Linked DNA regions of Homo sapiens. The protein of the gene in region 2 purifies or fractionates together with the protein of the main gene of each other region. This does not show direct contact. Each region holds a gene or a part of one and is shown on either strand. Other genes may lie near its edges. The genes, in order: LSG1, TTC29, FBXW8 and EIF5B.

The links.
Region 1: the proteins of TTC29 (region 2) and LSG1 purify together in Homo sapiens (affinity purification with mass spectrometry; 2 studies listed by BioGRID and IntAct, with this or other methods). This does not show direct contact.
Region 3: the proteins of TTC29 (region 2) and FBXW8 purify together in Homo sapiens (affinity purification with mass spectrometry; 3 studies listed by BioGRID and IntAct, with this or other methods). This does not show direct contact.
Region 4: the proteins of TTC29 (region 2) and EIF5B purify together in Homo sapiens (affinity purification with mass spectrometry; 2 studies listed by BioGRID and IntAct, with this or other methods). This does not show direct contact.

What each region holds. Positions count from the first base shown.
Region 1 is NC_000003.12:194,641,171-194,648,196, forward strand, and holds part of LSG1 (large subunit GTPase 1 homolog), read right to left. Parts: intron 6,260-7,026; exon of another isoform or gene 5,074-6,259; coding exon 4,994-5,073; exon of another isoform or gene 3,577-4,993; coding exon 3,403-3,576; intron 1,078-3,402; coding exon 898-1,077; 3' UTR 1-897. UniProt on the Homo sapiens protein: Functions as a GTPase. May act by mediating the release of NMD3 from the 60S ribosomal subunit after export into the cytoplasm during the 60S ribosomal subunit maturation.
Region 2 is NC_000004.12:146,935,852-146,942,877, forward strand, and holds part of TTC29 (tetratricopeptide repeat protein 29), read right to left. Parts: exon of another isoform or gene 6,995-7,026; intron 6,834-6,994; exon of another isoform or gene 6,805-6,833; coding exon of another isoform or gene 6,733-6,804; intron 4,051-6,732; coding exon of another isoform or gene 4,045-4,050; coding exon 3,953-4,044; intron 1,827-3,952; coding exon 1,743-1,826; intron 1-1,742. UniProt on the Homo sapiens protein: Axonemal protein which is implicated in axonemal and/or peri-axonemal structure assembly and regulates flagellum assembly and beating and therefore sperm motility.
Region 3 is NC_000012.12:116,906,486-116,913,964, forward strand, and holds the start of FBXW8 (F-box/WD repeat-containing protein 8), read left to right. Parts: upstream 1-4,464; 5' UTR 4,465-4,552; coding exon 4,553-4,870; intron 4,871-7,479. UniProt on the Homo sapiens protein: Substrate-recognition component of the Cul7-RING(FBXW8) ubiquitin ligase complex, which mediates the ubiquitination and subsequent proteasomal degradation of target proteins.
Region 4 is NC_000002.12:99,340,368-99,347,393, reverse strand, and holds part of EIF5B (eukaryotic translation initiation factor 5B), read right to left. Parts: intron 1-7,026. UniProt on the Homo sapiens protein: Plays a role in translation initiation.

The DNA.
Region 1 (7,026 bases), on a different chromosome or scaffold from region 2:
GTTATTGAACTATAATTTACATACCATACAATTCACCAACGTAAAGTGTGTAATTCAATGGTCTTAAGCATATTCAGAGTTGTGTGACCATCGCTACAGTCAATTTTAGGACATTTTTATCACTGCAAAAGAAAGACCTCAATCTTCCCATTCCTCCCATCCCGAAGCAACCACTAATCTACTTCCTCTATATGGAGATTTGCTTATTCTGGACATTTTAAATAAGTGGAATAACCAGTGAAGATGGGGGCTAGGTAGTAAATACCGCAGCTTCCCTGTCACCCGGTGGTTACATTCTACATGTTCCTTAGTGGACGTGAGCCCCCGCTGTACACTAACTGAACCCAAGTCCCTTGTTTAGAGTCGGAGGAACCCAACTAGGACACTCAGAATGGGGAATTTCTCTTTCACCTTCGTCCCAAATGTGTCTCGTGAACCATCCCTTGCAAATTTTTTTTCTTGTGATGCAGTCTCACTCTGTCGCCCAGGCTGGAGTGCAGCGGCGCAATCTCCATTCACTGCAAACTCTGCCTCCCTGGTTCAAGTGATTCTCCTGCCTCAGCCTCCCGAGTAGCTGGGATTACAGGTGCGCGCCACCACGCCTGGCTAATTTTTTTGTATTTTTAGTAGAGACGGGGTTTCTCCATGTTGGTGCGTGAGCCACTGTGCCCGGCCAGGAGTAGGATTCTCGGGCTCCCAGATGACTCCTTTTTGTCAGAGTTGGTGTTTCCAGGAGGCCCTTGGTCTTGACATGGAGACTGTTGGGTGCAGCCGTGCTCTGCAAGAGCAGGGCCCGTTCTACAGTGCTAGTGTCTTGGGACGGTTCCACAGGCAACAGGCAGCTTCTGCTCTTTTCCATCTGCACAATGCAGATGACATTTCTGTTGCAGCCCAACCTCACATATCCAGGTGCTTGTAGAGTCTACGACTTTTTTCTTTTTTATTTCTGTTGCCATGTTTTTTCCAGGGCTTCCCCGCCCCGTTCTCAGAGCTCGCAGTGGATGCAGTCACTACACCACTCCCGGGCTTGTAACCCATCACAGCCTGGACTCCTTTGGTCAAAGCCCTCACATTCTCCTAGGAAATAAGAGAAAACATTATCTGAGCTGTCAGCAGGCTATCCTTTAAGGGATATGCACAGTACTATTAGTGGATCACTTCAAGATAAAAAGGAGTCAGTCACTGGGTGAACTTCCGCCCCCCTCCCCTTCACTGGTCCTCTTTCTCCCCCCAGCATTCTGTCTTCAGTTCATCTCTTCCCCCTCCTCATTCCCTCGTCAACTTTGTTTAGTCCCATACTTTCAAATGCCATCTACAACTAGACTTAATACCAGCTGTGTTCTGGAAATTTGTCTTAATATCAAAACTTAACCTGTTTCAACCACATTAGAAATGGACTCTAAACAAATTTTAAGTTTACTTAGTAAAAAAAAAAATTAGTACCCTACGATTTGCAAGTTACTTATAATAGTAAAATATTACTCTAGAGGTTACAGTTTAGACATATGAATTATATTAAAATTATGACAAGTTTTCAGCTTTCTTGTACATAGCTTTTAGAAACCTGTAAACATTTAAAATTTCACATGAAATGTTCTGTATGACAGCTGTAGGCCCAAGAATAAACTTGCAATCTTTTTGCATGTTGGTAAATTTTCTTCCAAATACTGGTATGTACCAACTTGAAAATAATTCAAACTAGGAGCTACAAACATCTAAGTTTTATCCCAGCTTTGCAATTTAAAGCATGCCCTTGGGTAACTCAGTCTCTTTGAGCCTCAGTGTCCTCAAGGAATAATACTTGCTTGGCCTGCTTCACAGGCTCATTGTGTAAGGCATGCAGATAAAGCACGGGATAAATACAAAAACATTCTCTGGATATAGCTGATCACCCCATCCTAACCCCTGTCCTATTTTCGCTATAGTAGTCACTTAAAAACATTTTTAACCTACACTGGGTACAATTATGTGATTTAGCTCTTTTGCATGTACATTTGACCTTTAAAATACTGCCTACAAATTGTAGCTGTGATATAAGCAACTGAAGTTATCAATATTTTAAAGTGCAGAAGACATTTATGAAGTCTGTTTCTTTAGCACTTTCTATCACCAAATGTGTTGGCTCAGAGAAAAGACAACTGACTAAATGGGTGCAAATATTTGTAAATCATAAATCTGATATGGGACTTGTATCCAGAATATATAAAGAACTCTTACAACTTAATAATAGACATTTCTCTAAAGAAAATATACATGTGCCAACGAGCACATAAAATGACGCTCAGCATCACTAGTAATTAGGGAAATACTCATCAAAACTATAATGCAATACGTCACATGTATTAGGATGGCTAAAATAAAAAAAAAATGGGAAATAATAAACATTGACAAGGATGAGGAGACAATTAGAAACCTCCTACATCACTGGGAGTAATGTAAAACAGCACAGCCACGTTTGGAAAGTTTGGCAATACCTCAAATGTTAAACATGGAGTTGCAATACAACCCAGCAACCCCACGCCGAGGTATATACTCAAGAGAGACGAAATCCATGTCTCCACAAAAACCTGTACACAAGTGTTCATTACACCATTATTCATAGTAGCCAAAAAGTGGAAACAACCCAAACGTCCCTCAAATGATAAATAGATAAACAAAATGTGGCATATCTATACAATGAAACATTATTCGGTAATAAAAAGGACTGAAATACTGACACAGGCTACAACATGGATGAATGTTTAAGATACCACGCTAAATGAAAGAAGCCTGTCACGAAGAGCACACAGTATGATTCCAGTCACGTGAAGTCTCCAGAACAGGCAAATCTGTTCATAAAGATTGATTATTGGTTGGCAGGGGCTGGGGGAAAAAAGGGGACAGGCAGTAACTGCTAATAAATAAGGTTTCGGCCGGGCGCGGTGGCTCACGCCTGTAATCCCAGCACTTTGGGAGGCCGAGGAGGGTGGATCATGAGGTCAGGAGATCGAGACCATCCTGGCTAACAAGGTGAAACCCCGTCTCTACTAAAAATACAGAAAATTAGCCGGGCGTGGTGGCGGGCGCCTGTAGTCCCAGCTACTCGGGAGGCTGAGGCAGGAGAATGGCGTGAACCCGGGAAGCGGAGCTTGCAGTGAGCCAAGATTGCGCCACTGCAGTCCGCAGTCCGGCCTGGGCGACAGAGCGAGACTCCGTCTCAAAAAAAAAAAATAAAAATAAATAAATAAATAAATAAATAAATAAATAAATAAATAAGGTTTCTTTTGGGAATTATTAAACCCTTTTTGGAATTATTAAACCCTTTTTGGGGTTAATAAAATGTGTTTATGGCATGTGATACTCAATAAAGCTGTTATAAAAAGAGTGTTGGATCAGAAGTTTAAGAAAAGCTTTAAAACTTACTTGATGGAAAAAAGTTTTGTCAACGATATTTTCAATCTGCTTTGCTTTTTTATTTCTGCCTAGCTGCATTTTTATTTCATCACTGTTCATTTTGTTCTCTAGGAGTCGCTGGTGTTGATGCTGAAAAGTTACAGGATCTCTTCCAGGAGGAGGATGGCAGTACAGCAGCTTACCCTACAAAGACAACATGAATGACAACAGTGCAGCCTAAGTGCCATCTGTGGCCTCAGAGGAGACAGCTCCACCCAGTCACACTCTGATGGAGCTTTCTGCCTTCTGGTTAAGTTAGCTGAGTTGAGTTTTGGTCTACTGCAGCTGAAGAGTCCTTTTTCTAATACATCAATGGTCAAAGTGTTCTAGAGACCTAGCTCTTCCCATGGCGCCCCAGACTAGGATGAAATCTCTTTCTTCTTTTCTCGTTTGCATTCCCACTCAAGTATTCTTCAGTATACGGACATGATCATACTTATGGTGAATATTTTCCAAAACAAAACTCAAGACATAACTGGACAGTTACGGTAATGCCGGGTTAGACTGTTAAAGTCAGGAGAGTTCCTCGACTCCTGTATGTGGGGTTGCAGTTGCTCACTGGGTGCAAGTCTGCCTCTTTCCATCATAAATGATCTGAAGGCTGTGACTATTTTTACCTCATCTTTACATCCTCCACAGTAAGTGGTAAACGAATACATGACTTATCCATACCAATAGCATGAACTGCTTTCTTCCTGAACTGAAGGCAAGCCCATATGGTTGCCACTGAGCTCCAAGAGCTCCACCGATGTGGTCTTGAGAAGAGGAGGAAATAAAGCCAAATCCTCACAACTGGTTATTAACAGGGCCCTGTAATGCTTATTTGTGGAAAGAAACTTAATAGATAACAATTACTGGGGGCTCATTATGTGCCAGGCATTGAGCTTAGTGCTACACACACACACACACACACACACACACACACACAGACAGACACACACACACACACACACACACACACACACACAGACAGACACACACACACACACACACACACACACACACACACACACACACACAGAGTTTTCATTTATTTCCCATAATAATCTCATGAGATAGGCCCTGTTCATCTCCATTTTACTATGGGGAAACCCCCAAATAGCATGTTCTCATTTGAAAAGGAGAAATAGTAATCTCACAGACTTGTTACATATTTGTACTGAGAAGACGCACGTAAAACAGAACTATTTCTAGCAGGGTTAGCTTTCAAGAAATGTTAGCTGTTATCGTTACTAGGCAAATATAGAGATAGGCATATAAACAGCTATACTACAAAGAAGACTGTGACAATAGTTGCAATCATAACAAGCAAAGGGCTGTAGGAGACAAAAAAAGCCAGATGCATATATTGGTGATTTTCACTCATAATAGGTGTTCAGAGATCTCCATCTTTTGTAATGTCTATAATCCATATAATGTTAACTACCCTACATCAAGAACACAACTCCAGTTTCAATGAAAAAATATTTCCTTTATAATCGAACAGGTTACCATTATCTAAGAACGCAGAATGTGGAAAAGACTTGTGTATTGGAGAGCATGAGAGGCAGGGTTCACTTACACTGACATAGTCCTTCAGGATGTAGCGCGCAGATCGAGGCTGGTCTGGCTGTCCATGCGCTGTCATGAATCCTCGCATGTCTGTGGAGAGAAAAGAATTTTGCAAAATCTTAGATGACAGAATATCACAACAAAGACAACTGAGGTGATGTAGCTTCTATTACTAAGCATTCTTACTCTTGGATTTTAAAAAATTAGGTATCATTGTAGAATATATATTGTTTAGCATTAAAAACACTAGATAATCCAGGAGAATATTTACTTATATCTGATATCCTAAAAATGCCACCTAGCACCACGCTATGAAAGACAAATTCGATTTCTCTCTACTCCAGTTATTTCTTCTCTTTATTTTATTTTTATTTTATTTTTTGTTGAGATGGAGTCTCGTTCTGTTGCCCAGGCTGGAGTGCAGAGGCACAATCTTGGCTCACTGCAACCTCCACCTCCCAGGTTCAAGCAATTCTGATGCCTCAGCCTCCCAAGTACCTGGGATTACAGGCGCATGCCACCACGCCTGGCTACTTTTTGTATTTTTAGTAGAGATGGGGTTTCACCACGTTGTTCAGGCTGGTCTTGAACTCCTGACCTCAGGTGATCCACCCACTTCGGCCTCCCAAAGTGCTGGGATTACAAGCGTGAGGCACTACACCCAGCCTCCTTATTTTAAACATTTATTCATGGAGGCTACCTGTAGGAGAATGCTACGCTATCAATACTACTTGCAAAACAGAAAGCAACAGAGAAGTTTTCTTACTGAATGATGTACCTACATTTTTTTCCCCAGTAAGATCCCTTTAATACTAACTCAATTAGAAAAGCAGCGAAGCATGGTGGTTAAGAACACGGCTTCAGCAGACAGGCTGCGTTCAAAACTCAGTTCCCTCACATACTAGCTGTCGACTGGCTTTTCCAGTTTCGAAGAAAATAGTTAGAATCCTAATTTACACAATATACAACAATAAATTTCGTCAGATTAAAAATCTAAATGTTAAAAAAGTAAGTAAATATTACAGGAAGATAGTTTTATCTTTTTGGGAGGGAGAAGACCTTCCCAAGTAAAACACCAAACCCAGTCAAACCAAAAAGGAAAAATATAGTCTATTAAAATTGTCAACTTCTTTGGGGCCAAAGAAACCATAAATTAACATTGGAAAAAATGTGTAGCACATATAACAAAGAACTTTTACAAATCATTAAGACAGAACCATGTATAGGAAAATGTGATTCCCAGAAGAAAAATAAATGGTCACAAAACATTTGGAAAGATGCTCAACTTCACTAGTATTTAAAGAAATACAAAGTAAAATGAGAGTAATCTGGCAATATCTTTGAAAATTTACTGTCAGAGATTTTCTTCTATATGGACTTGCAGATAGTGAACTTAGAAATTGTACGTGTGGTCATTTGCTTTTACAAACTGGCTTTTTCCTTACTCTGATTTTATCAGGCAGCATTAGATGAAACATCTTAAAAGACTCACATTATTTTCAGTTGTATCGGAAGTACAATCAAACTGGAAGTTTGGTGGAAGTCCACCTTTCTGCATTTTGCAGGCTAACATCCTGCAGGGAGATCTCACCCAGGCTATTCCACTGACCAGCCACCTCACCTTGGGTCAGCTCAGGCTCTGAGTTCGGATGATTACTCTTAAAAGCAGGGGCTAGGAGGTGAGGTGATCTTTAAGGTCTTTTCTTGTTCTATGAATCTGTAATTAGAATAGTCTTACCACAAGTGTTTAGTATTTATCCTCTTTAGAGTCTCTAAGTTCAAGGTTTAAGTGTGATTCATATCAAATCACCTTTCACCTTTCTCTGCCAGTAAATACTCAAATAAGCTGAACTCCTTCCCAACCAGCAGCAATCCCTGTAAAGGCAAGTCACCCACGCACGGAAATGTTTCCCACACTGCTATTTTTTTTTTTTTTTTTTTTTTTAGGTAGACACAAGGTTCTCCAGGCCACCTTTAAAGTTTACATTTAAGGCAAGAAATCATAGGTTCCCACGTGGAATTGGGATAAAACACAGAGGTGGG
Region 2 (7,026 bases):
TTCCCTGGCTAACAGACTATGCATAATTCTTCATGGCACCTGCTGGGCATTGCTGGGAGATGCTGAAATCATTCATCAATTTTCTCCTTTTTATGCTATTCAATTAGTCTGTCTAGGGCAAGGTCTAGAATGTGTATCAATCAAAAGCATAATAATGACCTGTGTACAAGCTATCTCCATACTAATGATTTGCATCCACTATCTTACAGAAAGAGCTTTGGTCTAAGAAAGCACTGAAGTGCAGGAAACTTTAAGGAGAATATTGTAGTAAGGCCTGAGAATTACCCAGAGTTACTGTTGTCAATAGTGTAATGATGAATTTGAAATCAATTTGGCAGTATCTTTAGTGGAAAAATAATATTAAGAGAATACTCATCACTATAGCCTATTTTGCATTGTCTTAGATAAAATTTTTCTTCAGCCTGCACTGAAAACTTAAATGTCAGTAGACTTTTAGTATATGGACTTCTAGTTTGTTGAAATTATGTGTAGCATGTTTAGTTTTTAATTTAATTCCAATTATTAAGCCAATTAAAACTATTTGGATATAATATTTAAATCAGAATCCAAATACGGCATACATATATTTTTCTTTTAAGAAGTAGTTGTACTATAATACAATATTGGCCTTAAATTTTATCTAACAGTTTATCACGGAAAGTTAAATAATTAATCATCAGAATAGCATTTAGCCAAAAATCCCACGTACCATATACATGGTAGTCTATAGAGCTCTGCAGAAGTGAGTGATTACAGCTACTGTAAAATTTTGTCATTCTATAAAGTAGTTATTGACAAAATAAATGACTGTGTTTTTCCATGTTATATGCAAATTGACAAAGATAATATCTGATAAAATGGAAAACACCAAGAGACTTAGAACTTTAGAATATATCAAACCTACACCAAAATATCATTAGCAACACCCTTTCAGTAGAATCCCACAGCATTAGACAAATTAATAGAGAGAATCTTTTACAAACATTTGTTGCATAAAATATTTTAATTGAAACAATTAATGAATTCCATAAGATACGTGTAAATTTACAAGATTTCCATTTTTCAATACTTACATGAAAAGATGTGATAACAGAGCCACTAAGTATAGGTAAGAAATATTAAACTTGTTTAGCTATTATTCTAAGTTTCTATTCATTTCTCACTAACCTACATTGATTTTTGTACTGCTTTTATTCATCCCATAAATTAGATTCTAACTGGTGATAAAATGTCAAAGTTTGTATCGTTCATCTAAAAAATAAATCTAGACAATTTGGAATTATTTAAAAATTAACCAATAAAGTATGATCCATTGGTTCTTTTGTGAGTGCTTGGGTGGAAAAGGAGACATATTAGTACATTAGTAAGGTGTTTCTTTTTCTTTAATCACCAGGAGAAAAGATATATAAATCTGTTTCTTAAAGCTTTTTTCTTTCCCATGGAGACAACACACCTTAAAATGAAGGTTAACAAGCAATTAATAGCACAGACTTAACTAAATATTGCAAATGTGATAGTATAATATCTTGGTAAATATGGGAATTTTGAGAGCCATAAAATTAAAGACTTTGATATGTGTGAGATCAATAGACATGACTTATCACTATTTAATATGAGCTTTAATTTTTAAATGCCATGTTCCAATGAAAAAGTATATTACACAGGAAAATTGAAATTTCAATAAAGAATCAAGACAAAAGAAACAAACTTTATATTAAAGTACCTTTAAAGGTTGTACTTACGCAGCAACTTCCTCTTTTGATAATCCTTTGAAATTTACCTCTAGATAATGATCTATGTCATCTTTTTCTTTGATCAATTGAGACCTAAATGAAATAGAAAGAAATAATAAAGCACAGCCTTATCAAGTTGAAAAGCTACCAAACACATAAAATGCCACCAGGAGAATAGAAATATTCAGGGTATAATACCATATGTAATAAACGCAATAGCTATAGAGTTAGGTCGTTGGTTGATCATTTCAAAATTTTATCTTTCCTGAATGGAAAATGATAAGGAAGAATATTAAACCCAGTGTGTAAACAAATAAAACACCAACACCTTGAAATAATTCACTTTCTACTCAAGAGTCTTCTCAAAGCTTACAAGACCTTCTATTTTGCTCACATTTTTTCGTGGTGTAACTTTCCAACTGCTGAAGTTATATATTGTTTGGCACAGAATCCTGAGCCAAGAACACCTGTTTGATTCAAATGTGTAACGTGAATTTATTCCAAACATTACTCAATTTTGTCCTGAAATGTTCTTTGAATAGTTTTTTTAATCACACATAAAACTCAAATTATTAAAGGTTCAAGGTGCAAAATGATTTTAAGAAGCCCTTATTGAAAATGTATTATACTTGTAGTGCGTTCATTCTTCACACCCTTTTGCACCTTTAAAAATAAGCATGCTATCAACCTCTCATAACTATGATGATTGATATGGAACTAAACAAATATCAGTGTTTTATTCAGAAGCTATTAAAGAATGTTGATACAAACTTTGCCTTTTGTGGGTATGATAAAAATATTTTTCTTCAATAAAATGAATACAAGAAAACGTTTTCTTTAAAACTCATCCTAACCTAAGGATATGAGATTTGGCTATGCTTTTGCTCACCTTGAAAACAAAATATAAATTAAATCCTTTAAAAAGACAGAAAGAATAAGCTTTTTCAGACTTCATAAATATTTTACATTATTCAAAAGTAAAACAAAAATATGTATGTATATATATTATAGTGTACACACATGAATTATGCATTCATTGAAAGATTTCTCCGCTATAGGAAAAGAAAATTTTGATTTACTATTTTTAAAGAATTTTTATGTTAGTTTAGCTGAATGTATTTATTTTGTTCCAGGGGCTTTGGTATTTCCTAGAAATACTAAAAATGAGGCATGAGAACAAAGAAACCTCCTAATACTTTGATCATTATGCCTTGCAGGAATGGAAAAGTAGGCATATAAAGAAAATAAACCTACGTATGCAAACTATTTATATTGGTAACTAATATGTATGTTACTAAAAGTCAATAGAATTACAAATGGCAATTTCAAAATAGCACAATCAGTTAATATGATAATTATGACAAAATGTATCAATTTCTCTGTCCTGCATTTCCTCAGTGACAATTTGAGTAGCTCAGCAGCCATTCATGGGCAGCAGCAGTTTGATGATGCATTTTCAAGCCCCAGCATCATTTCAGGAGCTGATTCTTGCCTGCCAATCTACCCTACAAGTAAGGCTCTACCCTCCTTCTTCCAAAACAGAAGTCAGCCCTTGGGACCTTGTAGATTAAAAGCATTACACCTTTCAGTCTGGGCATGGCGGCTCATCCCTACAATCCCAGCATTTGGGGAGGCCAAGGCGGGTGAATCACTTGAGGCCAGGAGTTCAAGACCAGCCTGACCAACATGGTGAATCCTGTCTCTACTAAAAATACAAAAACTTAGCTGGGCATAGTGCTGCGTGCCTGTGGTCCCAGCTACTCAGGAGGCTGAGGCACGATAATTGCTTGAACTCAGGAGGCAGAGATTGCAGTGAGCTGAGATCACACCACTGCACTCCCGCCTAGGTGACAGAGTAAGACTCTGCCTTAAAAAGAAAAAAGCTTTACACCTTTCATTCCCAAAGCTTCTGCTTTCTGTTCTCCATACACATTTAAAACAGGAAACTTATCTCCAAAACTCTACGGGAACCATGATATAATTGCAACAGGAAATAAAATGATGAAATAAGCACTAGGTTAATAAATAAATAAATATATTTGCAGTATTTGAATGTGGTTCATAAATCCTTTTGAAACAGCAGATTTCAATATTCTCAATATAACAAGGCATTTTTCTCTTCTCTTGAAATGATTTTATTTTCTGAGATACATTATTGACATTTCTTATTACAGAAAATTCCTTCTGTAGGAAAATAAGTAAAAACCAGGGGCACGTACCTTGGAATTTTTCTGGAGGAGCAAGGCAGCTTCTGTCTGGCTAAGGCTGTAAGCTTCGGGCGTGTCATGGGCAGTGGGGGCAGGGTGGTCATTTCGGACTACAAAAAGAAATAAGTAGAAATTGTATTTTAAGGAATAAATCTTTCAAAGGATCCTTTAAGACATTATTAGAGATTTACAGTCTGTCATCTTAGTTGAGAATGCCTATGTGTAGTGCTACAGCTGTGTTATTCGGGAATCATGCTCAGTGAGTGGATTCTGCAGGTTGCTTCTCTCATTATTTTCTTCCATTGTCTGCTTTTTGGCCAACTTATTATTTGTCTGTATCTTCAGCACAAAGTAGATAAGAAGAAAATTTGATAAATGCATTGATGGTTCAGTTGGCATCTTTGGTAAGAGTTTTGTAAGGGACATGATTGCAATTAAAGAATAAAGATTTTAAGGATAGCTATGGATTTCCAATGTTTATGTGTTGCTTTCCTGTTACAATCAATAATTGAAAATTGCTTATACTTGCTGTTTTCTAAAAGCCTTATCGCTCACAAATAAAGGCTTTCCCTTAGATGTGATAGATGATAAGAACAATTCTCAACAAGGAGACAGCTACCCTGAGAAAGCACACAGCCATAACAATATAATGAATCACTTCAAAATGTACTGTTTTTTAAAAGTTGTTTAAAACAACTTTATCTCACACTTTACATGGTTCAGGAATAAGGACAGGGTATCATAGGCATGGATTTTTTCTCCTCCATGATGATGGGAGCCTCTGCTGAGAAAACTCAGAAGCTGTAGTAACCCAATGACAGGGGACAGGAATCACCTTGAAGTGTCTTCACTCACTTTTCTAGTGGTTGATGCTGTTAGCTGGGACTCAACTGGGGCTATCTGCCAGAACTCACACATGTGGTCTCCTCATGTGGCATGGACTCCCTCACATCATGGCAACCTAAGACTTCTTATATAGCAGCTCCAGGCTCCAAAGGCAAGTATTTTAGAGAAAAGCCAGGCAGAAGCTTTATCCCCTTTTAGGGTCTAACCTTGGAAGTCACATAGCATCCACTTCTACTGTAATAACAAGTTCACCCAGATTCAAGGCAAATGAATACAGAACCACCTATTGATAGGAGAGTGTCAAAGTTTCATTATAATAAAAGAATATGGCATGGGAGATATTATTGCAGCCCTTTTTGGAAAATGCAGTGTGCCAGAGTGGTGAGCAATTAGGAAGGCAAGTCTATAAAATCAAATTATCTAAATCCTATTCCAAAGAGGAAGAAGTGTGGACATGACATCTGTGAACTTAGAATAGAAAAATTGTTACATGGTGCAAGGGCTGTCAGATACAAAAGAACCCATGCTTCTGTTAAATAGAGAGGCATCCAAAAGGCCAGGGGCTCCTGATCCCACCCCGTCTATGTCCACCAGGTTTGACCTGTACTCTTAGCTTCACCAAGAAGCTGAAAGGCTTGTTTTAGGTTTTAAATGGCTTATCTTCAGCATTACTACCTGTGTGACCCAGGGAAAATCACAATAAAATCTGGGCCTTGAATATATTCAGCAGATATTTAATGAGCTCCTATTTGGTGCCAGGCACTGTTCTAGGTGCCAAAGATACAGCAGTGAAGAAAAAGACAAAACTCTCTGATTTCACAGACTTTGCAGTATGGGGGTAAATAGGGAGAAAGACACTAAACAAATAAGCAAAATATATAGAACCTCAGATGTTGATAAGATTCTCTGCTGGAAAACAAAGCAGAGCACTAGAAACTACCCAGATGCTCACCAATGGCAAAGGGATGAGTAAAAGCAGAAGGAGACAAGCTCAAAGACGTTATGGAGAATTTTGTTCGGTGTCCCAATAGTGTAATGTCTTGATGGTTACTCTAAAAACTGGCTTTTATTCTTATTGAGGTAAGAATCCATTGGAGGATACAGAGCATAGAATTGACACGATCTGACTTGCATCCTGAAAAAATCACTCTGAGTTTTTCTTTCAGGTTAGACTGTAGTGGGGGAAAGGGTAGACAGCAGAGAGGCCAGCCCAAAACCTCCTGTGAAATACAGGGGAGAGAGAGTGGTGGCTTAGGTAGGAGTAGAGAAGGAGAGATGTAGTCAAACCTGAAATAGAACCACCTGTGGATAGCTAAGACACAATATTCCTCTAGTGCTACAAAGCCATGGTGGAGGTAGGGGTGCAGAAGCACTAAGACGAGAGAAAATCTTCTGAAATTCAGTGTAGAAATAGACAGCTTTGTGTTACTGAAAAAGATTATTATCCTGGCCTAAAAATAATTTTTTACATAATTAAAGAGAATTCTAATGGAGATCAGTGGTTTATTTTAAATATAACAGAATCCTAGTACTACCAGTTTATCAAGGCATGATATGATCTATGAAACAAAATGCCCACTTATTTTATGCAGTTAAGGCATTAAGAGTGGAAGTTAATGAACATTAATTGGAAAGCAAAGGGTCTACCCTTTAAAGGGTCTATGCTTTAAAGTGCACAATCTAAACAGCAAATGTTAGTCCTCTCCTACAGACTAAACATTAGAAACATACTATATTACCCTTTATAACTTCATAACGTAATGACAATTTTTTTAATTTAAAAAATCTATTTTTCTGATTAGATGTTATATTAAACAGTTGAGTTACTGGAATAACAAGAACTTACTAAATGGCAGCATCATACAGAGCATATGGTAAGAAGTTATAACTCATGTGAGGTTTGAAGGGACACCAAAGCTCCCCAAACGGGCCTCCCAAGAGCTTACTTCAGAGGAGCTGTGAAGACTTTTCCACAGAGTTCCAGAGTCTTCCAATGTTACAGTGAACATCGGAATCATCTAAGTTCTTAACCCACACCAGTGTAGCCCTAGTAAATTTAAAAAGGGAGAGAAGAAAACAACTAAGTTTGCCTCATTTGGGGCATTCCATCCTCTATAAATTTTAGACTCTTTTCTAAAAGCCCCACTTTACTTGCCAAAGCATTATGCAGTGGGCACTGGGGCCAGGGTAATCTCTTCATAATTGCAGGGGTCTTTGAAGAGTTCACCCAGGAGCTTCAA
Region 3 (7,479 bases), on a different chromosome or scaffold from region 2:
TAAGGATCTTGAGATAGGGAAGGTTATCCTGGATTGCCAGGTGGGCCCTTAGTAATCACAAGTATCCTTCTAAGAGGGAGGCAGGCTGGGCATGGTGGCTTATGCCTGAAATCCCAGCAGCTCAGCAGGCTGAGGTGAGAAGATTGCTTGAGGCCAGGAGTCCGAGACCAGCCTGGACAACATAGGAAGACCATGTCTCTGCAAAAAAAATTGAAAAATTAGCAAGGCATGGTGGCATGGAAATCCTGGAAATCCAGGACATTGTAAACCGCTCCCTGTTCTCCCAAGAGCTGGAAATATGACTGCCTTAGGCCAATCAGATGGTCCTCCAGGAGAGTGGTTCTCAAACTGGGTTATGCATCAGAATTACAGGGAGGGATTGTTAAAATCAAAATTGCTGGGGTTGGACCCCTAGCGTTTCCAATTTAGTGGTCTGGGCTGAGAATTTGCATTCCAAACAAGCTCCCAGGTATTGCTGGTTCAGGGGCTACATTCTGAGAACCTCTGCTCTCGGAATTTGAATCCTAGGAAATGAAAGACAGGCAGCGATCCCATCCTACAGAGATGGTTCACAGTTCCCATGATGAAATCCCTAAATCTGATCTGGTTCTTGGCATTCCAAGGGTCTGGTTATTCCTCTTTTTGTTTAACTTGGTGAGCCATCCTCTGAGTTTAATTCCCTTTTTCTTAAGGTAGAAAGACTTGGCGTCTGTTGCTTGCAAACAAAGAACTTTAACAGATTGAGCTTGCAAAAGTATACCCTCAATGTGATAAAAGGTGGGGCCCTGTGGAATACAAGACTTACAGAGCACAGGTTAGATGCAATCTCTATCTGCCAAGACTGTATTAATGTGGATCATAGACATCATTTATTAAAAGCCTACATTATGTTTTATGGATGCTAAGAGTTTTATAGGCATTTTATCAGTCTTACAGTTATTCTGAAAGAAAGATATTTCTATCTTTACTTTTCATTTGAGGAAATGGAGGTCCAGGAATTTACTACTGGAAAGATATAAAATCAACATAAATATAGTCAGTGAATGGTAGGCAATACTAAAAAAAAAGACAATATTTTCCTTCTTCTTAGCATGCTTCTCTCTCTCTCTCTTTTTCATTTTCTCTGGGTGACTAATGGTCCCATTAGCCTGCCTGCACTGTCCCTGTAAAAGTTCTTTTAAAGGGGCAACAGGAAACATTGATCTTGACCAGCTTGGGTGGTCTTGACCAGCTTGGGTGTTTAAAATTGATCTTGACCAGCTTGGGTGTTTAAAATTTTCCAGTTTGAGCCTGGAAAATTGGGTGTTTAAAATTTTCCAGTTTGAGCCTGGGCTTGGGGCCTAATGCTTGTAATCCCCCGAGGTGGGAGGATCGCTTGAGGCCAGGAGTTCAAGACCAACCATTTGACCAACTTCATCTCTACTAAAAACTTAAACATTAGTCTGAGATAGTGGCATGCTCCTGTAGTTCCAGCTACTTGGGAGGCTGAGGCAGGAGGATCACTTGAGCCCAGGAGTTCGAGGCTGCAGTGAGCTACGATCATGCCACTGCATTCCAGCCTGAGTGACAGAGTGAGACCCCATTTTTTTTAATTCCAGTTTGCTTTCTGTTTTAAGTGTTAGATGGTCCATAAAATCTAGAGATACCAGAAAAGTGATATTTGGCTTTTGACTTGCAAGTAGATAATCAAAGTAAGTATGACCTTTGGATTTCACATGGAAGGCACATGGGATGAATGGGATGCTAGCGGAATGGGGAAAAATTAGCTCGTTTTTATTTTTATTACAATAATATTTATTGGCAGCAGCCACTGATGAGCAGCAGCCATGTTTCTGTGGTCTCCCATGTCTGTGGGTCTCAGTGAGGGCCACAAGGTGAGGACCAAGAATGTGAGCAAGCATGGCCACTGCTGCCACCGCAGGCACCCCACCAAGCACAGAAAGTTCGTGTGGGACATGATGTGAGAGGTGTGTGGCTTTGTTCTATATAAGTGATGCACCTTGGAATTGTTCAAGGTCTCCAAGAAAAAGTGGACCCTCAAGTTCATCAAGAAGAGAGCGGGGACACACATCTGCACCATAAGAAGTGAGAGGAGCTGGGCAATATCTTGACCTCCAGGAAGCGAATGGCTGCCAAGAAGAACTGAGACTTCTTCCCCTTCTGTGTATAATAAAACCTTTACGGAAAAAAAAGAGAATGCTTACTTGTATTGGATGCTTATGTTCCATCTTGCATCACTTCACTCATCTTTTACCTTAGTCACTGCTGTAGCAACTGGCTTTGTGCACGTGTAACCTGACAGTCGTTCCTGTTAGCTGCACAGTGTACCTCCTGCTTTTTGCCCCAGAGCATCTCTGCTGCCTTGGTACGGAACATCCATGATAATCCGTTTACTTATACCCAATCTAGAAGTGGGAGGTTGTTAAAGCTCCTTGGCTTAGCCTTTCTCTAGTAGGGGATGAGAGTCACTGGACAAATGCTTTCCTCTTCTGGCTCTTATCTCTTGGGAGGACAATTCTGAGCTGTGTTCTAAGGCTCCTTAGAAGGTGCTAATGGAATGAGCCTAAATTGCCACAGTAGGACCAACTCAGAGATGCTCTTTCTTTTTTTTGTTTTTTTGAGACAGAGTCTCGCACTGTCGCCCAAGCTGGAGTGTAGTGGTGTGAATATACGCCCAACCATATACTCTAATTTTCTACAGTGAAGGTTGTCCAAGCCTGGTTTCCCACAGTAAGCAAGCCTGAGCCCTGGGTTTGTAGGCAGCTAGTTTATTTACAGAAGTGATTCTAGAGAAGAGGCCTGAGAGACTAAGAAGAGTTAGACAAGGAATAAGGGACAGTTAATTGCAAGAGCATCTTTGAGCCTGGAGTGGTGGCTCACACCTGTAACCCCAGCACTTTGGGAGGCTGAGGTGGGTGGATCACTTGAGGTCAGGAGTTCAAGACTAGTCTGGCCAACATGGTGAAACCCTATCTCTACTAAAAATACAAAAACTTAGCCAGGTGTGGTGGCGGGCACCTGTAGTCCTAGCTACTCAGGAGGCTGAGGCAGGAGAATGGCGTGAACCCGGGAGGCGGAGCTTCCAGCGAGCCGAGATCGCGCCACTGCACTCCAGCCTGGGCAACAGAGCGAGACTCCGTCTCAAAAACAAAACAAACCAAACAAACAAACAAACAAAAAACCATTTATTGAGCATGTATTAATCACCAGTCTCAAAGCTAAGAGTTGCCAATCTAGAAGGGAAGGGATATATATATATACATAAAAATAAAATTACAAATTGTGTTATGTATTATGATGAGAAGTACAGGATGCTGTGAGAATGAGTAACAGGGATACCTGATGTTTCTTGAGTGGAGGTTGGAAGATTAAGTGAAATGTGAGTTGAGATATGAAAGATGTGTAGGAGTTAACCAAGTCAAGGTGGGGGGAAAAGTTCCCTGCTGAGGGAATATCAGGTGCAAAGAAAACATTTTTAAGTGGAACGCCATCGTATGTCATTTTCTTTCCCATCTTAAAGCCCTTGGATTTCCTTCTGGAAATCTCTCTCCTAAGATCTGACCTTCCCTTGGCTGGTTTCTCTTTCAGATTTTTAAAAAAAAATTTTTATTTCCACAGGTTATTGGGAACAGGTGGTATTTGGTTACATGAGTAAGTTCTTTAGTGGTGATTTGTGAGATTTTGGTGCACGCATCACCCGAGCAGTATACACTGAACCCAAGTTATAGTCTTTTATCCCTCCCCACCTTCCCACCCTCCCCTCGTCCCCCTCCCCTGTTCCAAAGTCCCATAAGTCATTCTTATGCTTTTGCATCCTCGTAGCTTAGCTCCCACTTATATGTGAGAACATACGATGTTTGGTTTTCCATTCCTGAGTTACTTCACTTAGAATAATAGTCTCCAATCCCATCCAGGTTGCTACGAATGCCATGAATTCATTCCTTTTTTATGGCTGAGTAGTATTCCACCATATGTATATATCAGTTTCTTTATCCACCTGTTGATTCTCTTTTAGATTTTAATTTAAATAACATCTTAAACAGACTTTCACTATCAATCCTTACTCCCCTTACCTTACCTTATTTTGTTTTCTTCCTAATACCTATCACTGATTTAAATGTTCATATTTCTTTGTTTAAAGTCTCCCTACTTAAACGCATGCTCCAAGACGTCAGAGTTTTTGTTTTGTTTTACAGATTTAAATGCTGAATTCTTGGTGCCTGGCATATAGTAGTTGCTGAATGAATGTTTGTTGAATGAAGGAACAATGCTTGGCGCAAAGTCAGAGCTTAGCAAAAGTGATAGGCAGCAGAGCTGACGGGCTGAGGGGCAGCTGCGTAAACCTCTGCTTTGGGCGCCACAAGCCACAAGCCGGACCACCACGTGCGTACAGGGGCAGCGCCGGGGGCGTGGCGGGGGCGTGGACGCCCACCCGGAACCCTAGAGCGGCGGCGGCAGCGGCTTCCGGCCGCGGCGGACACTTCCCTGGGCGGGACTGTCTCGTGGCACCCGGTGGAACCGAGGAGAACGTGGAGCGCCGGGAGCGGCGAATATGGACGACTACAGCCTGGATGAGTTCCGTCGGCGCTGGCAGGAGGAGCTGGCGCAGGCCCAGGCGCCGAAGAAGCGGCGACGGCCCGAGGCTGCCGAGAGGCGGGCTCGGCGGCCGGAGGTGGGCTCCGGGCGCGGCGAACAGGCCTCGGGGGACCCGGCGCTGGCCCAGCGTCTCCTGGAGGGCGCGGGGAGGCCCCCGGCGGCGCGGGCGACTCGGGCCGAGGGGCAGGACGTAGCGAGCCGCTCACGTTCTCCTCTGGCCCGCGAGGGCGCCGGGGGCGGGGAGCAGCTGGTGGACCAGCTCATCCGCGACCTGGTGAGTGGCCGTCGCCTCCCCCCCGCCCATGCCTGCGCCGGCCCCCGCCCCCAGGACAAACCCCTGCAGTGATTTGGAGAGTAACTGTGTGCCACTAGTTGCCCGAGAAAATGAGTAGACGCACAAACACCAATGTTTGTGCTTGCATAGGGGTCTTTCTGGAAGCAGCACTTCCCAACCAGGGCGATTTTGTTCCCCCAGATGTGGCAGTGTCTGCAGACATTTTTGGGTGCCTCATCGGGGTGTGTATGTGTGCATGTTACTGGGCATCTAGTGGGTAGAGGCCAGAGATGCTCCTGAACATCCTACAGTGTACAGGACACCACGCACAAAAAAATTATCCAGGACAAAATATCAGTAAGTGTGGGGTTGAGAAATCCTGCTCTTGAAGGCTACCTAAACTTTGAACAAAGGTTGCCTTTGAAAAGGAGGACCCAGATGATGGATAGGAAGTAATTTTACCTTTGTATACTGTTTGCACTATTTAATTTTTGTAACCGTGCACGTATTCAAAAAAATTATCTCAGAAAAAAAGGAAGAAGAGGAGGAAGAATCTCCTGGGCACTTTCATTAGGATAGAGTTTCTTATCTTTTTGTGGGGCGTGGATACCTTGGAGAATCTGGAGGAAGCTGGGGACCCTGTGTCCGTTAAAAATAATCCCCTTCAGAAAGTTGGGAAAATCAAGAACACCTGAAATGCATCCGTGGCTCCCAGGTTAAGAGGACAAGGCTCCAGGTTCTAATGGTTTGATTTAAATTAGGCCCAAAGGAAGTCCCTACAGCTTTACAATTGGGAACCCACTTTTTTTTTTCCTGTTTTTTTTTTTTTTTCTTTCTTTCTTTCTTTTCTGAGACAGGGTCTTGCTCTGTTGCCCAGGCTAGAGTGTACTGTTGCTCTCCCGGCCCACTGCAGCCTCAAACTGCCTGGCTCAAGCCATCCTCTTCCCTCAGCATCCCGCGTAGCTGGGACTACACGCATGCGCCACCACACTCAGCTAATTTTTTAAATTTTTTGGTAGAGACAAGGTCTCCCTGTATTGCCCAGTCTGGTCTCAAACTCCTGGGCCCAAGTGATCCTCCCAATTGAGAATCATTCTTTTTTTTTTTTTTTTTTTTTGAGACGGAGTCTCGCTCGCTCTGTCGCCCAGGCTGGAGTTGCAGTGGCGCGATCTCGGCTCACTGCAAGTTCCGCCTCCTAGGTTCACGCCATTCTCCTGCCTCAGCCTCCCCAGTAGCTGGGACTAACAGGCGCCCACCACCACGCCCGGCTAATTTCTTTTTGTATTTTTAGTAGAGATGGGGTTTCACTGTGTTAGCCAGGATGGTCTCGATCTCCTGACCTCGTGATCCGCCCGCCTCGGCCTCCCTAAGTGCTGGGATTACAGGCGTGAGCCACCGCGCCCGGCCGAGAATAATTCTTTTAAGTGGCAAGCTGTTTCAAGAAATAATGGCCTATTATTTTATGTAATATGTAGTTTACTCAAATAGCATTAATAGCTACTATTTGAGTTTTTACCAAGTGTTTAGTCCTGTGCTCTGCCCTAATTCGAATATAACAATCCTGTGAGGTAGATTTTAACTCTCCTTTTACAAATGAAGAAACTCAGAGATTCTCTGTAACTTGCCCAGCATTACCCCACTGATAGATTCTGGGGATTGAATTTGGATCCAGGTCTTTTCAACTCCAAGTTTCACCACGTGAACTTGAGTTGGCATAAGAATCACTTGAGGCTTGGTTATAATATAGGTTCTGGGCCCTCCCCAGACCTGCTAACTCCATCACCAGGGAAGGGGCCCTGAAATCTGATGACTGGTATGATCAGGCAAGTTTAAGACATTATACTCTACTGTATAGCCTCCTTTGGTTTAAGGTCCTGATTCTCAAGGCTTTCCATTTGTAACACCTTAGAGGTATAGGCATTGATGCCAAAAATAGTAAAGAAGCAAATCATGTACAGTTGACCTTTGAACAACCTGGGGGGTTAGGAGAACTGACCTCCTTGCAGTCAAAAATCTGTGTATAACTTTTGACTCTCCCAAAACTTAACTACGAATAGCCTACTGTTGACCAGAAGCCTTATAGATAAGTCAGTTAACACATATTTTGTATCTTCTGTGTGTTATATACTGTAGCATTATAATAAAGTAAGCTAGAGGAGAAAGTGTCATTAAGAAAATTATAAGAGAAAATGTATTTACTATTCATTAAGTGAAAGTGGCTCATCACAAAGGCCATCATTCTCATTGCCTTCATGCTGGGTAGGCTGCTGCTGCTGCTACGAAGGAGGGATTGGTCTTGCTGTCATAGTGGTGGCAGAGGTGCAAGGAGAGGCAGGCACATTCGATGCAACGTTTATGGAAAAAACCTGCATACAAGTGGACCCACGCGGTTCAAACCCATGTTGTTCAAGGGTCTGTAGTATTCTGAAAATAGAAGGGACCTGCATACTGGAGAATCTGGAGGGTACATCTGAATCTATTTCATGTTGTTGGAAAAGGCCTTCCCTGTCTTCCTGGAATTCATTTCCCTGGTCTCCTCTGCCCCCTTCAGAATCACCACATTAGGTACTACTAGGTTCTCTATGAGTAGCATACAACTTTTGGGGCAC
Region 4 (7,026 bases), on a different chromosome or scaffold from region 2:
ACGTGGCATCATCTTTCAAATCAATACTGCAGATTGGAACTTTACAAAATTTTATATTTGTTACTATTTGATATAAGACTATTTGGGGGCCTGGCACAGTGGCTCATGCCTGTAATCCCAACACTTTGGGAGGCCAAGGCAGGAACATCACTTGAGTTCAGGAGTTCAAAACCAGCCTGGGCAATAAACCAAGACCTCATCTCTACTAAAAATCAAAAAAATTAGCTGGGTGTGGTGGCATGCGTCTGTAGTCCCAGATACTCAGGAGGCTGAGGTGGGAGGGTCACTTAAGCCCAGGAGATCAAGGCTGCACTGAGCTATGATCAGACCACTGCACTCCAGCCTGGGCGACAGGGTGGGATTCTGTCTCAATAAAATAAAATAATAATAAAAAAAGAATATTTTGGGTTTCATAATTACAGAGATACAAGTTTATATTTAGGATTATGTCTGCAGATATATATAATATTGATAAAAATTCAGATCCACATTCTCAATAAACACCTTAAGATACAACTTATATGGGCCAGGCGCAGTGGCTCACACCTGTAATCCCAGCACTTTGGGAGGCCGAGGCGGGTGGATCACAAGGTCAGGAGATTGAGACCATCCTGGCTAACGCGATGAAACCCCGTCTCTACTAAAAATACAAAAAATTATCTGGGCGTGGTGGCGGGTGCCTGTAGTGCCAGCTACTCGAGAGGCTGAGGCAGGAGAATGGCATCAACCCGGGAGGTGGAGCTTGCAGTGAGCTGAGATTGCTTGAGACACCTTCTCAAAAAAAAAAAAAAAAAAAAAAAAAAAGAGATACAACTTATGTTCTAAAATAACTAATCACATGGTAAGTGCTCAAAGCAAACTCAGTCTCTGTACTCCATAGAAGTTAACTCTGATCCTTAATCACTGTTAAAGGATTTTCCCCACCTAACTTGTATAGTGCCTGGCACTCTAATATTAATAAATCATTAATATTAACAAACTAATAATTACTAATAAATTTTAACAAAAAGTTTTATGTAGACAACCACTCTCAAGACCAGATTTCTGAATAACCAATTTGGTGAACACCATCATTAGAATGGTCTGGCTGCACCTGTGTACAAAATTATTGGCAATACAGGAGCAACTGAAGATCTCAAATATTCCTCATGGTCACCCTTGGTACTCTAGAGACACAGAAACACACAGCATACTCCCATTCCTTCCAATCTGCACGCTCTCTTGATGGCAAACTTAATTAGAAAAGGATTTTAAAGATGCATAAACAATAACTTTAAGAGGCAAATGTGAAATCTCGAGGGTGGTACTCTCATACTCCATTTTCTCCCTTCAGCACTTCACTCTGTATTATCTGTGCATATGCCTATTTGCTATGTTAAAACGTAACTCCCTTTGAGAACAGCAAACTCCCTTTTGTATTCCCAATTCACCACATTTTTTTTTTTTTTTTGAGACAGGGTCTAGCTCTGTCACCCAGGCTGAAGTGCAGTGGCACAAACATGGCTCACTGCAGCCTTGACCTCCCAAGGCTCCAGCAATCCTCCCACCTCAGCCTCCTGAGTAGCTGAGACCACACGCACACACCACCACACTCAGCTATTTTTTTTAGGGGGTAGAGATGGGGTCTCCCCACGTTGCACGGGCTGGTCTTAAACTCCTGGCCTCAAGCAATCCTTCTGCTTCAGCCTCCCAAAGTGCTGGGATTACAGACATGAGCCACCGCACCCCGCCCACCTACCTATGTTCTACAAGTGGCAACCAGAAAGGCATGTTAGACATTCCTTTTTTTTTTTTTTTTTTTTGAGACAGTCTCACTCCATTGCCCAGGCTGGAGCGCAGTGGTGCAATCCTGGCTCACTGCAACCTCCACCTCCCGGGTTCAAGCAATTCTTATGCCTCAGCCTCCCAAGTAGCTGGGATTATAGGCATGCACCACCACACCTGGCTAATTTTTTGTATTTTTAGTAGAGACGGGGTTTTGCTATGTTGGCCAGGCTGGTCTCCAACTCCTACGCTCAACTGATCCACCCGCCATGGCCTCCCAAAGTTCTGCAATTACAGGCACGAGCCACCACCATGCCCGGTCGCATGTTAGACATTTCAAATAGGCACTAATAAATAAGGAAAAAGTCCTATTCTGGAGTGGCAATCACGACTCTCATACAACAGGCAAGGCTAACCAGTTTCAACACAGCAGTTTAATAAAAAACACGTCTAACACTATAATAATTACTGTACTTTTGATCATAAAACTTCCAAATGGAATTTTCTGAAGCAATAAATTGAAACGCTAGTTTAAATGCCTCTGAAAAAGTACAATGACATTTCATTTATCTGACAACACAGACAACGATTCCATTGTATGTGAATTTTCCAAATGAATGAAATGTACCACTTCTAAAAATTTATATTTAAGATATAAATGTTTCTTATAATACATTATATAATTTCTTGAAATATTTACAAATGTCTGAGGTTGTATCAAGATAATGGAGAAAAGAAAGGAGGGGGCAGAATACATATGAAATGAGATTTATGAATGAATTTGAACCTGGGTGATGGACACATGTTTGTTCATTAGACTATTCTACTTTTGTATGTGTTTGAAATTTTTCATCTAAGGAAATTCACACCACAGTAATCAAAACTGTGGTGCCGGCTGGATGCAGTGGCTCACATCTATAATCCCAGTACTTTGGGAAGCTGAAGCAGGTGGATCATTTGAAGTCAAGAGTTTGAGACCAGCCTGGCCAACATGGTGAGACCCTGTCTCTACTAGAAACACAAATATTAGCCGGGCCTGGTGGCGCACACCTAAAATCCCAGCTACTCCGGAGGCTGAGGCAGAAGAATCCCTTGAACCCAGGAGACGGAGGTTGCAGTGAGCAGAGATCACACCACTGTACTCCAGCCTGGGTGACAGAGTGAGACTTCGTCTCAAAAAAAAAAAACCCAGAAACAACAACAACAACAACAACAACAACAACAAACTGTGGTGGCAACACTGACACAGACATACAGACCAAAGAAATAAAACTTAAAGTCCGGAAATAAATCCATATATCTAGCATCTAATGATCTGACAAGGGTGCCAGAACCTTTCAATAGGGAAAGAAATCTTCTCTTCAACAAATGGTATTAGGACAACTAGATATCCACATATAAAAGAATGCAGGCCGGGTGCGGTGGCTCACGCCTATAATCCCAGCACTTCAGGAGGCCGAGGCGGGCGGATAACGAGGTCAGGAGATCGAGACCCATCCTGGCTAACATGGTGAAACCCCGTCTCTACTAAAAATACAAAAAAACTAGCCAGGCGTGGTAGCAGGTGCCTGTGGTCCCAGCTACTCGGGAGGCTGAGGCAGGAGAATGGCATGAACCCGGGAGGCGGAGCTTGCAGTGAGCTGAGATTGCGCCACTGCACTCCAGCCTAGGCGACAGAGCGAGACTCCGTCTCAAAAAAAAAAAGAATGCAGATGAACCCCTACATCATACCACATACAACAATTAATTCAAACTGGAACAAAGACCAAAATGCAAGAGATAAGGCAATAAAAGTTTTGTTTTTTTTTTATTTTTAGAGATGGAGTCTCACTCTGTCACCCAGGCTGACGTGCAGTGGTGCAATCTTGGCTCACTGCAACCTCCGCCTTCCAGGTTCAAGCAATTCTCCTGCCTCAGCCTCCCGAGTAGCTGGGACTACAGGCGCGTGCTACCACACCCGACTAATTTTTGTATTTTTAGTAGTAGGTTTTGCCATGTTGGCCAGGCTGGTCTCGAACTCCTGACCTCAGGTGATCCACCCACCTCGGCCTCCCAAAGTGCTGGGATTACAGGCATGAGCCACTGTGCCCGGCCAGCAATAAAACTCTTAAGAAAACATACAGGTAAATCTTCACGACCCTGGATTTGGCAACAGATTATCTCAGATACAACACCAAAATGCAAGCAACAACAACAAAAATAAACTGGACTTCAACAAAATTTAAAACTTTTGTGAAAAAGAAACTTTAAAAGACAGTGGAAAAAACAAACTACAGAAATCAGAGAAAGTATCTGCAAATCATATATCTGATAAGGATCTAGTATCCAGACTATATCAAGACCTCTTACAACCCAACAATAAAAATACAACCCAGGCTGGGTGCGGTGGCTCACACCTATGATCCCAGCACTTTGGGAAGCCAAGACGGATGGATCACCTGAGGTGAGGATTTCGAGACCAGCCTGGCCAACATGGTGAAACCGCATCTCTACTAAAAATACAAAAATTAGCTGGGCATGGTGGCACTGTAGTCCCAGCCACTTGGGAGGCTGAGGCATGAGAATCGCTTGAATCCAGGAGGCAGAGGTTGCAGTGAGCCAATATCACGCCACTGCACTCCAGCCTGGCCAACAGAGTAAGACCCGGTCTCAAAAAAAAAAGAAAGAAAGAAAGAAAGAAAGAAAAAGACAACCCAGGCCAGGCACAGTGGCTCACACCTGTAATCCCAACACTTTGAGAGGCTGAGATGGGAGGATCACTTGAGGCCAGGAGCTGAAGACCAGCCTAGGTAACAAAGCGAGACCCCATCTCTACAAAAAATTTTTAAAAATTAGCTGAGTACAGTGGTGTATGCCTGCAGTCCTAGCTACTGGGGAGGCTGAGGAGGGAGGACTGCTTGAGTCCATGAGTTCAAGGTTACAGGGAGCGATGATCACACCATTGCACTCTAGCCTGGGTGACAGAGTGAGATTCCATCTCTCAACAGAAAGGAAGGAGAAAAGGAGACAAAAAAGACAAAATTTTACAATTTACCAAAAAAAAAGGAGGGGGAGGAATGATTACATTAACAGCAACAAAAATTCTGTGATACATGGGAAAAAGCCAAATCCTAAAGATTAAAATGAAGAAAATAATATTTTACTGTTATAGAATTAAATTAACCAACTAAATGGAGAGGCAAATCATATTACTTATTTGTTCACAAATATATTTCTAGCATCCAGAAAAATATCTGGCACTCAAGTGCTTAAATCTCAATATATTTCTTGAATGGAATGATTCAACACCATAAAGATGTCAAGTGTCACAAATAATCTATAAACTTAATGGACTCCCAATTGAAATCAATCTCAACTGATATTTACCTTGGCAAGTATTACATTTAAAAAAAAAAAGGAAAAATCTCAAATTGTTAAAATATCAAGAACATTAACATGCCCACAGATGTCTTCAGTTGCCTTTAAGTGATTCTCAAGCATTCTCAGCACCTGTAAGACATACATGAACGATGGTCAAACAGCTTGAGAAATGTCTCACAAATGCCTAAATCTAGTTTAGAAATCCCTAGGCCAGCAGTCCTCAAATTCATTCCCAAGGTCTCTTTAGGGAATCTAAACTATTTTAGGGGGTCAAAACTATTTTCAAAATAATACTAAGAGGATACTAGCCTTTTTCATTCTCATTTTCTCACAACTGTACAGGGGAGTTTTTCAGAAGCTAAATGATGTGTGATGATGCTGCAGATCAAATGCATAAGCAAATGTGAGGATCTATCTTCTATTAAGTCATATAATAGTGAAGATGTTTGCAAAAACGCTTAGCTCTTCTATTTTTGAAAATATGGTTATTTAATAATGTTATGTATCATAGTGTAAGTTTATTTTTATTTTTAAATTAAATATTTGAAGAACTTTTCAGTTTTAGTTTGTAATACCTGTAACTGGTAGATATAACCTACATACACAGAAGCCTTTTGTGTTCCTTAGGAATTTAAGAGTGTAAAGGAGTCTAGGACCAGAATTTGAGAATTGCTATTCTAACCTAACCACTGACACTCAGTTCCTTGGTAAAACAACACTCTGCCCACCTTATAGATCAACTGCAATACTGGAATAAACTTAGAAGCATAAATAAAGCACAACAAATGAGCAAGTAACATTAAAAGTAGCTGAATGAGTTCCCCACAGGGACAGCATGGAAGGCTAGAGAGGTTACTATCAACAAAAATCTATAATCTGTTTTCTTATTAATTTATAGCAAACTAGGACTTCTTCCCCTACCACTTCCTAAAGCGTCAGGATAGGAACAGGCTAGACCAAAAGAATTCTGATTATGCATCTTTTTTTGATGTAATTTATGCAGACAAGAGTTTCATTCAAATATATGCAAGTAAGAAATGAATTCCTTTATTAAACCTAGGCTATGTGTATTATATTTGTTTGATATGTGGATATTGAATCCTAGCCTTTGTCTCAACAAGTTTCCCGAGTCAACTGAAAAAGGTCAGGAAAACTTGCTGAACAAACACCACATCAAAATCTCATTCTTAGAATTACACAAACTGGGGCTGAGCGTGGTGAATCACACCTGTAATTCCAGGCCTTTGGGAGGCCAGGGTGGGAGGATCACTTGAGTTCAGGAGTTTGAAACCAGGCAGCCAACATGGTGAAACCCTGTCCCTACTAAAAACACAAAAATTAGCCAGGTGTTGGGCGCCTGTCATCCCAGCTACTTGAGAGGCTGAGGCAGGAGAATCGCTTGAGCCCAGGAGGCGGAGGTTGCAGTGAGTGGAGATCGCGCCACTGTACTCCACCCGGGGTGACAGAGCAAGACTCCATCTCAAAAAAAAAAAAGAAGATTTTTCACAAACTGGAACAGAATTCTAGAACTTGGTCTTTAAGCAAAATTCTAGAATTCTAAAAATACACAGACAAGAATAAATATCTTGATCACTGACACATGCTGTACAAATAAAATTAGGTAAGTTAAAATCTAATTTTAAATGAATACTGAGTGGCTAAGAAGTTAAAATAAGGATTAATTAAATATAAGAATTAAGGACAGTGAGTATTGTATGTTCTGTCCAAGAACTGAAAAGTGGCTCCATGCCTTCTCTTGATAACTAAATAAGCAGTTGTCATTTCTCACACAGTTCACACCTTGCCAGAAACATGCCTGACATAGCCAAGGAGGGGAGGTGGAATGACAGTAAAATCTTTAAAGTGTGGACCTTCACCCAGGAGAATAAAACCGGATCTCTA